2 separate regions of the Homo sapiens genome follow, and region 2 is linked to region 1. The links come from fine-mapping of genetic effects on gene expression. A gene starts in region 1. The other region holds a variant in brackets. All regions are shown on one strand. Distances are from middle to middle.

Region 1 (4,252 bases):
AACCGGATTGTAGAATAGTATGCTCAGAATATTCTCTTTTTTTGTTAAAAAAAAAAAAAAATCAATGCAGGCCAGGCGCAGTGGCTCACGCCTGTAATCCCAGCACTTTGGGAAGCCGAGGCAGGCAGATCATGAGGTCAGGAGATGGAGGCCAACATGGTGAAACCCCGTCTCTACTAAAAATACAAAAATTAGCTGGGTGTGGTCGCACGAGCCTGTAATCCCAGCTACTCAGAGAGGCTGAGGCAGGAGAATTGCTTGAACCCGGGAGGCGGAGATTGCAGTGAGCCGAGATTGCGCCACTGCACTCCAGCCTGGCAAGAGAGCCAGACTCTGTCTCAAAAAAAAAAAAAAAAAAAAATCAATGCATATGTAAAACAAGTCTTAAAGAACATTTGTTATCTGTGGAAGATAGAATTATGAAGGCGTTTTACAATATTATAGATATTTTTGCTTAGATTTTTATGATACTTCTTGTGTATTTATTGCATTGTCAAAAAATAAAAATAAACCCTTAAAAAGACAAAACTAACAACCACAGCCCAAAACAAACAAACAAGAAGTAAAATCACGCCATTCCAATGGTGGCCCTCAACATAATGAAGACTGAATTTCCTTACAGTTGAATGAGAAAGGAACTTGCGTTGAATATAAATTAGGAGAAAAGTAAAAATTTTCTCCTGCACACCAGTCTGAGGATTCATACACCCAAAGTTAATTTGTTGATATTTTAATCTATATATAATTATGAACTGTGTTTATTATGAGACTATTAAAAAAACTGCTTTCCATCAACATGTAGGTGTTTTCTTTGAATGGGATTACAAATACACCAGGGATTGACAACGTTCATATTTACTTAGCAAATAATGATCTAATCCCTGGGTCAATAGTGAAGCTGAGGAAGGAGAGGACTGTGTTTACAGGTGATGGAAGGTTGTTAGGCAGGACTCACAGTTGGATTCTAGATTTCAGGGTAGGGACTACTTACTGACTTTTCAGTCAGGCGGATCCCAAAGAACTGCTGCCTGGACGGGAATGGGAATATGGTCTGGCTGGGAGGACAGAAAGCTACAGATGAAAGAAAATGTGATATGGGTTGCAGACTCAGGGCCTTGAGCACTGTTCTTTCTCATCTTCGTGGTGGGGGATTATGGGGTGGAAATGCACTCTCCCAGTCGGATCACATCCCACTACTCACCAGCGTTATATCCCGTCGCGGCTTCACATATATTACTTACCTGGCCCGGGTGGCATTTTACTTTGCATCCTTGATTGGGAGTCTCAGGGGCTACGAACAAACGTTTTACCCCCGGGTAGCAGGCGGGTGAGGAGCGAGTATTCGCGGAGCGGGATAAGTGGGGATGTCGCTGCGCCCTCGTCCCTTCATCTCCGGGGGACGGCCACTCTCAGGGTTCCCGAGGAGCCGGCTCCGTGCACCTAGGCCCTAGGTCGGCTCCCAAGCCCGGGCCCGCCGCTACACCAGCCGTTTCTTACCCGCAGCTACAAATCTGACACAGACACCAGCTCCTCATACTCTTGGCTCCCATGCTTTCCTCCACCGCGCCTCAGCACTTGCAGCTTCTCCACTCCCACAGCGCCCGCCGTAGTCAAGGCAACAGAGGGATGCCCGGTGACAGACTCGGCGCCGGCTTCCGGCGGCGTCAGAGACGTGCGGGTGAAAGGTCGAGCGACAGCCGGCCCCGCCCCCTGGCGCGCGGGCGTGTCGGACCCGCAGAGCTCTCGGACTTTCGGAAGCTCTCGGTGTGGGTGCGACCCGAGAGAAGGAGCGGGGCTGGTGGGGCTGCTGCAGCCGGTGAGTGTGGGCTGGCGCTGGGGGCTGGAACCTCCTAGGCCAGCCTTTGGGCGGTGCCGGAGGAACCCGCTCGCTGCGGCTCTGAGGCGGGAACAGGGGCTGGGGCCGAGCGCGGGCTGGGAGCTTCGGTCCCCGGAGTGCCGCTTCCCGTCTGGGGCCGGGGCGGTCGCCTGTCTGTGTGGACCCAGGATCCTCAAAGAGAACGAATCTGGGACCCTGCAGAAATGAAGGGCATGTAGTGTAGAGGTTTTTCCTTTTTATTTAGAAAGGAATGAAAGACCGGCAGTGCACCTGCTTGGATAATAAGCACGTGACCCAAAACTTTGTTCGGGCTCCATGGGCAGGAATAAAGCTGGGTATTTGACCTCGCGCGAGGACGAGCGAGAATGTCAGAATGAGGGACTTGGGGGAAGACTGAAGAGAGAAAGGGAGCATCTTCTTCAGCATTTTCTCTCCCTCCTGGATGCAACCCTTCCTGTACGTGGTCATTGGCCTGGAGATGTTTACTGGAGTACTCCTCCACCGGCAGGGTTACTGGTGTCACTGTGCACCCAGTCCCCTCGAGCTGCGTGATTCATCGCAGCCTTTGGATCCGGAAGGATGAGCAAACTCCTTAAGTGTAATCGTGGTAGGATACTGACTTTAGTGCTCGAACTGGACTTAGGCCTTGGTGGTCTATCTCATCAATAAACATTCACTGGGTTCTTGGTTTAAGGGGTTTGAGAAGCTTGCCACCTCCCAGCGTTTATTATTATTTTTTTCTTTTGCCCCGACCTTTAGCCTCTGGGCCATTTGTAATACATATTTAATTTTTAGTCACAGGAAATAAGTAATCATGGTGCTCAACAGTTTGGATAAGATGATTCAACTCCAGAAAAACACTGCCAACATCAGGAATATTTGTGTTTTGGCTCATGTTGACCATGGTAAGAATACTTTTTAAATGGCTTATTTTGATAAATAAGGGAGATGTGTCTCTGTATGTCTCAGTGGAGTGAAGCTGTGGACAGCTGAGAGTGATGTTTGCTAAGAAGCAAGTCTTCTTTCTTTAAAAGTTTTGTGTGATGTTAGGGAAGCCTGCTTTGCTATAAAGCATTTGAAATGAACACGGTTACCTAGTGAGTAGCATTCTTCTATATATTATGTCATGTTGTTTTTTAAAGCAGAACTTGAATTTTTTGTTTTTGAAATGGCTTTACATATAAAATGTCTGTAGTCTTGACATAATGTCCTTAGAGTCTGTGGTATGTGATCCTATTTAATTCATCAGATATTTATCAAACGTCTGTTAAGTTCAAGATATTTTGCTTAGTATGTCTGAAGGTGGAGATTTATGAGTAGGGCACTAGCCCAGGGGAGGTTTTAACGGGGAGCAGAGCAAAATGAGACAAACAAGAGAAAAAAGTAGACTCTAAGGTTGGGAGAACTAGAGGATTAGGAAGTGAGGGGTTAGGAAAAGACCTCACAACATAATTAGTATTAGAGATGACACTTGAAGGGGGCTCAAGATGACAAATGGAGATAATCATTACAGGTGGGAATGTGTCATCAAGGGGAGAGGGAAATATATGTGGTCAAAGCCCAGTATATGGGAAAGGCAGAGATAGCTAACCCATGGTATGTTCTTCTGACAGATACTGCTGTAACTCCATAGCGCTCCTTCATGCTAAGCCTCCTCTTGATTTCAAACCTCTTGGTAGTTTAGGTAACCACAGCAAAGTGATTGGGATGGGCATATGAAATAAAACATATTTACCATCCTGAAGATGAAGGACCAGTTGGCGAGGTGAAGAAGCAGGCTGAGTCATATCTCATAGAGCTGCTCATGCCAGCTAGGAACTGGGATAAGAGTTGAGTGCTCCAGCTCTGGAGTTAGACAACCTAAGTTCAGATCTCCATTTTCAAGTTACATACCTTGCCTTTTTGAGCTTCAATATACAGCATCTGTAAAACAGGATGAAAACTATACCTGCTTTATAGGCTATAGGATTAAATGTGATAATAATGAGAGGGAAGGTAAACGCTTCACCATGAAAACGATCATTAATGTCTACTATTAGGCAGTAGGGAGCCTTTGGGGGAAAACATGGAGCAGGAATGATGTAATCAAATAAAACATGAGAAAGATTAGATTGGTAGACATGCTTAGGATGGATCCAAAGTCAGAGATTAGGTGGCTGTTGTCATTGATAGAAGAGCTGAAGTAATGTGAGTATGGAAACTGACAGAAAGACAGATAGTGGATCACTTACAAGTGAAGCCAGCTGTGAATGAGTTTTAGTACAAATCCAGTGAGTAACCCCTGCCTCCATGAGTTTTTATAATTTTACTGCTCACATTTTGAGAATGTGAAGGCTGATAAAAGGGTTTTTTTTTTCTTTATGAATTTATTCAAGTGGAAAGTTAGTGGGGTGTAACAAATTACTTTAAATGTAT
Region 2 (4,249 bases), 71 kb before region 1:
GGCCAGGCTGGTTTCAAACTCCTGACCTTAGGTGATCCGCCCACCTCAGCCTCCCAAAGTGCTGGGATTACAGGTGTGAGCCACCGCGCCCAGCCAGGAGTGATTTTCAGTGGTGTCCTCTCCATCCCCAGCATACACCCAGCCCTGAGTGGCCGCGGCTGCCACATGCAGGCTCCAGGGCTACATTTGCCTTTCGTCCAGGGTTGTCATACGCTGGAGAGTAGAATGTGAGAGGTGACCCCTGTAGGCTGCAGGGTGGCCTCTCTGAACCTTAGTGTCCCCCACCTGTAGAAGGGGCGTAACACCTTCCAGGGGGAGGGCTGAGGAGGAAATTGTCAACGGCTGAGTCTAAGGCTCACAGCCAGAGGCCAGGGTCGGATCCAGGGCTGGGCCTGGGCCTGGGAGGACAGTGTCCGCCCCTTCTCCAGCCTCCCGCCCCTGGTCAGGCCAGGACCCTCTTCAAAGCACCTTCATGCCCATCTGTTCCCTGCTGTGGGCACTACTGTCTGGCTCCATGGGACTAGATTTTATGGGAGGGGAAGGGGCTGTGGGTAGGCAGGTGCCAGGTGCTGGACCATAGATCAGCATGGTAGGAACCTGTTGCTTGGGCTGGTGGTGGGAAAGGGGCCAACCCAAGGCAGTGGCAATTAGCCCAGCCCTATCTCTGGGCACAGAGATGAAGGGACACGTGGGGACACAGTAGGGCAAAATTGGCCAGCCTGCTCTTCCCCTCTCTGCCCGCTTTTTGCAGAAGAGTCAACAGATAGAACAGACAGAGCCAGGGAGGTGCCCATGGGGGCCCCAGTCCCCACCACTCCAGGGGGCAGTCCCTGCAAGTGACAAGGTGGGCTCAATCCCTGTGGAACAGGTCTCTGAGGACCACAGAGTGGGGCCCCAGGGAAGGCTGGGAGCCTGAGCTGAAGGCAGGCAGCAAGTAAGGGCCAAGCTGTGCCCCTGCCCAGAAGACCTTCCTGCCCCCAGAACCCCACCCTCTGCAGACAGGCCTCCCTGGGCAGCAGCCCTCTGGCTTCCGAGGCCTTCCGTGCCTCACCAGATGCCATGCTCTCAGGGACTCGTTTGCTACGCTGCCCCCTGCAGATCTGCCCCAGAGGAGCAGGTGAAAAGCCGCGCCTGCCGAGGTGCTGCAGCGGTGGAGTTTTGGGCAGAGGGGTCGGGGGAAGAGTTTCTCACTTTTAAGATTCCCCAAATCCAAGATGAAGTCACACTGTGCTTTAGTATGGTAGATGCTCATTTATGTAAAATCATAATAAATGTTACACAAACTGTTAGAATAAAAAAATACCTTTTTCGAGGGGGAGGAGCTCCCCAGCCTGCCGCTGGGTAGTGAGAGGGGGTTAGCACCATTAGGGCGTAGGGGGCGGGAGCTCCGCCACAGCCCGTGGTGGGCACTGAGGTCTGTCGGTCGGTCTGTGCATCCTGGCACCGTCAGTGGCGGGTGACCCGCTGATGGCCTCGGGAGGGGGAGCCGTGGCTGGGCGGAGAGCACGAGCGGCAGCACTGGGTGCAGACGGTGGGCAGCTGGCAGCGGCCCAGTAGGCGCAGTGTCTCACAGAACCCGAAGGACAGGCGGTCCCGCTCACAGCCTGGAGTGGGGGGGCAGAGAGGCATCAGAACCAGTGGTTTGGGGTACCCAGAACCTGGCTCCCCACCCCAACCACCTCAAGGAGGCTCCAGCAGCTCCCCACCAAGCAGAGAGCCCCAGTTTCTGGAGCGGCTCCCAAACTGGACTTGCAGGTCTCCAACTGTTGGTGTCTCTGTCCCACCTACTCACGGCCGACCCCAGGACTCGAGAACGGGCGCTGCTGGGCTGAGGTTTCTGGAGGAAAGGTCCTGAGACCGCACCCTGACCCCCTCACATGCCTGTTAAAGAGCCTGCCCAGGGCGACGCCTTGCCACCCCATCTCCATCCTTGCTCACCCCTGGTGTTCCCCGACAGATCCTGGCACAGAACTGCGGTCCCGGGGCCTCCTGCCAGCCTGCAGTGGCCTCTGCCCCCGACTCCCGCCACCGCCCCCTGCCCCAGTGCATCTGTCCTGCCAGGCCTCCGTGACCACCTCCAGCCACAGGGGCTGTACTCAGCCTCGGGTTCTGAGTCACAGGTCGCATCTCCCAGGCCAGCCTCCCATTTCCCAGGTGGGCCACGAAGCCTAGAGAGAGTGGGCCCTACAGGCTGTCAGCGGAAACCAGGGACTAAGCCCAGGCCCAGTGGGGAGGGAGGCCGGCTGCAGGCTGTGGTTGTCAGGGCTGAGGCTTGGCTGGGCCCTCCTGCCCCGTGGTTATCAGAGCTATTTTGGGAAGTGGCTTGTTTCCAGCCTCCTGGCCTTGCTCCTGATGCCACTGCCACTGCTGACAGCCCCCACCTGCCGCCTGGGCCCTGCTTACTCCAGCAGACCTCCCTGGGGAGGAAGAGCAGGAGGACAGCAGCCAGCCCTGTGCCAGGGACATCCCTCAGGCCCGGCAGAGGGCACGAGGCAGCAGGCAGGCTCCTCCACCCCAGCTCCAGGCAGAGCTCCAAAGTGCACATCTGCAGGCCTGCATCCTGGTCGCCCGGGGTGACCTCAGACAAGCTGCTTCACCTCTTGGGCCT[T/C]GGTTCCCTCCTCTGTCAACCCCACCTCCACAGCAAATGGATGTGGCCATGCTGTGTCACTGCAGCGACCGCACACTCTGGAGTTTCCTGGCTTTCCCCCGTCCCGCCAACTGTCCCACAGACCAGCAAAACATCCTGGGAATTCCAGGTCTCAAAGTCCAAGACACCTTCCCAGCTGCCCCTCCACTGTTCACTGGTGGCAGAAAACTCCTCACTTAGGACAGCTTCTAGTTCAGCCACCTAACCAGCCCCCATAGCCCACTCCCTGCAGCCCACTCATACCCGCCCCTGGGAGACCTTACAAGCCCAGAGCCTCCTGGGCCATCTGTCCTTGGTTCTAGGCCCCCAGGGGCCTCAGTTCCTGTTCTCTGCTCCATCTGGTCCTCATCCCCTGGGATCATAACCACCCCACTCCCTGTGGCCAGCTCTAGCCATGAAGGCGAGAGATGTGATGCCAGCACCCAGCTCAGGCAGCACACAGGAGTGCTCTGAGATGCTGGCTGGGTGCGTGCTGAGGGCAGGCAGGACAGGGTGGGGGCACTGCCACTTGGCCTTGAGGTAATGGGGTTTGTGGCAGGAAGGCCACCCCTGCCAGAGGCAGGGTAGCAAGGCATGGCAGCGAGGCATGGCAGGGGCCACTCTGAGCCCAAATGAGGGCTGCCCAGGAGCCAGCGCAGGTAGAGAAGGCGCATTGGATAAGGGGAGAAGGCAGACTGGGGAGACTGCAGGGGGCCCCGAATGCCAGTTTGAGGGCCGTGGCTGAGGACTCTGTCCTAGGGTCAGGGGGCAGACAGCCAATAGCACAGGGGCCGCAGCTCTTCAGGCCACAGCTCCTGGATTCCTTAGACTGGCAGGGTCAGCCCCAGGCCCTCTCCCTGACCTTGCAATGGGGGATGACAGTGGCTTTGCGGGAGGGGAAAAAGCCGCCTTCCCTGAGCACCACCTGGATCCCCACGCAGTGCTGTGCCCTTCATGCCCAGACCTCACTTATGCAAGGATGGGGCTTGGCAGCCCCTTTATTCAGCACATGAAGGCCCTGAGAGGGAAATGGAGCCCAAGGCCACACAGCTGGTGAGGGGAGCCCAGGTGACACTCCAGGGCCACCCCATTTCCTGCCCTCAGCACTGCTGAGAGCAGCTGGGGCTGCAGGAAGTGTGTGAGTGTGTGTGTGTGTGTGTTGGAGGTGGGGGGTTGGGATATCCAGAACCACCTCTAGCTCAGGCCCTTCCACCAGGACCCAGCTGGCCAGGAAACCCCCCACCACTGGGATTAGCAGGACCCTGGAAGGGAGGCCCTTCCTGTGGTTCCATTGCTCACTCTAGGCAGTCCTCTGGCCAGGGAATGGACAGGCTAGGGCTGGGGAGGGGACAGGGACTCACCCAGGCCCAGTTTTCACACAGCTTCAGGGACATCCCTGGTCTCACTATGGGAAGACTGAGACCCAGAGGGGAAAGAGCTTACCCAGGTTCACACAGCAAATCAGGGGCCAAGGCCACTCTCTCTACTCACTGGAGGTCAGAAAGCTGCCTGCAGGATGTTGTGTAGCTGGGACTTCTCTTGACTGACTCCCAGCACAGCCAAGCCTCCAGCATGGGATCCTGTGGCATCAGGATTTTCAGTGGCTCCTGAGCCCAGACTACA

Alleles and levels. Alleles are on the strand shown, and positions count from the first base shown. SD is a standard deviation of normalised expression in the study named.
With allele C in place of T in region 2, the expression in microglia of the gene that starts at base 1,612 in region 1 is higher (large effect, 1.4 SD a copy in Young 2019).

What was found. PIP is the estimated chance that this variant, and not a neighbour inherited with it, causes the effect.
Region 2: its variant is the best candidate, but not a certain one, in a credible set for the expression of SAXO2 in microglia (Young 2019, PIP 0.65).

The regions. Positions count from the first base shown.
Region 1 is chr15:82,260,178-82,264,429 of GRCh38, reverse strand. SAXO2 (stabilizer of axonemal microtubules 2) reads right to left here and starts at 1,612. Exons shown (of 4, transcript NM_001348699.2): 1 at 1,498-1,612. The coding sequence starts at 1,550. It overlaps EFL1 (elongation factor like GTPase 1), which reads left to right and starts at 1,696. Exons shown (of 20, transcript NM_024580.6): 1 at 1,696-1,816; 2 at 2,633-2,742. The coding sequence starts at 2,652. RefSeq lists enhancers at 1,392-1,461, 1,482-1,571 and a silencer at 3,580-3,766.
Region 2 is chr15:82,331,599-82,335,847 of GRCh38, reverse strand. It overlaps the pseudogene ADAMTS7P1. Among named protein-coding and RNA genes, the nearest start is that of GOLGA6L10, 16 kb to the left of the region's middle. The variant T/C (reference allele first, on the strand shown) is at 2,609.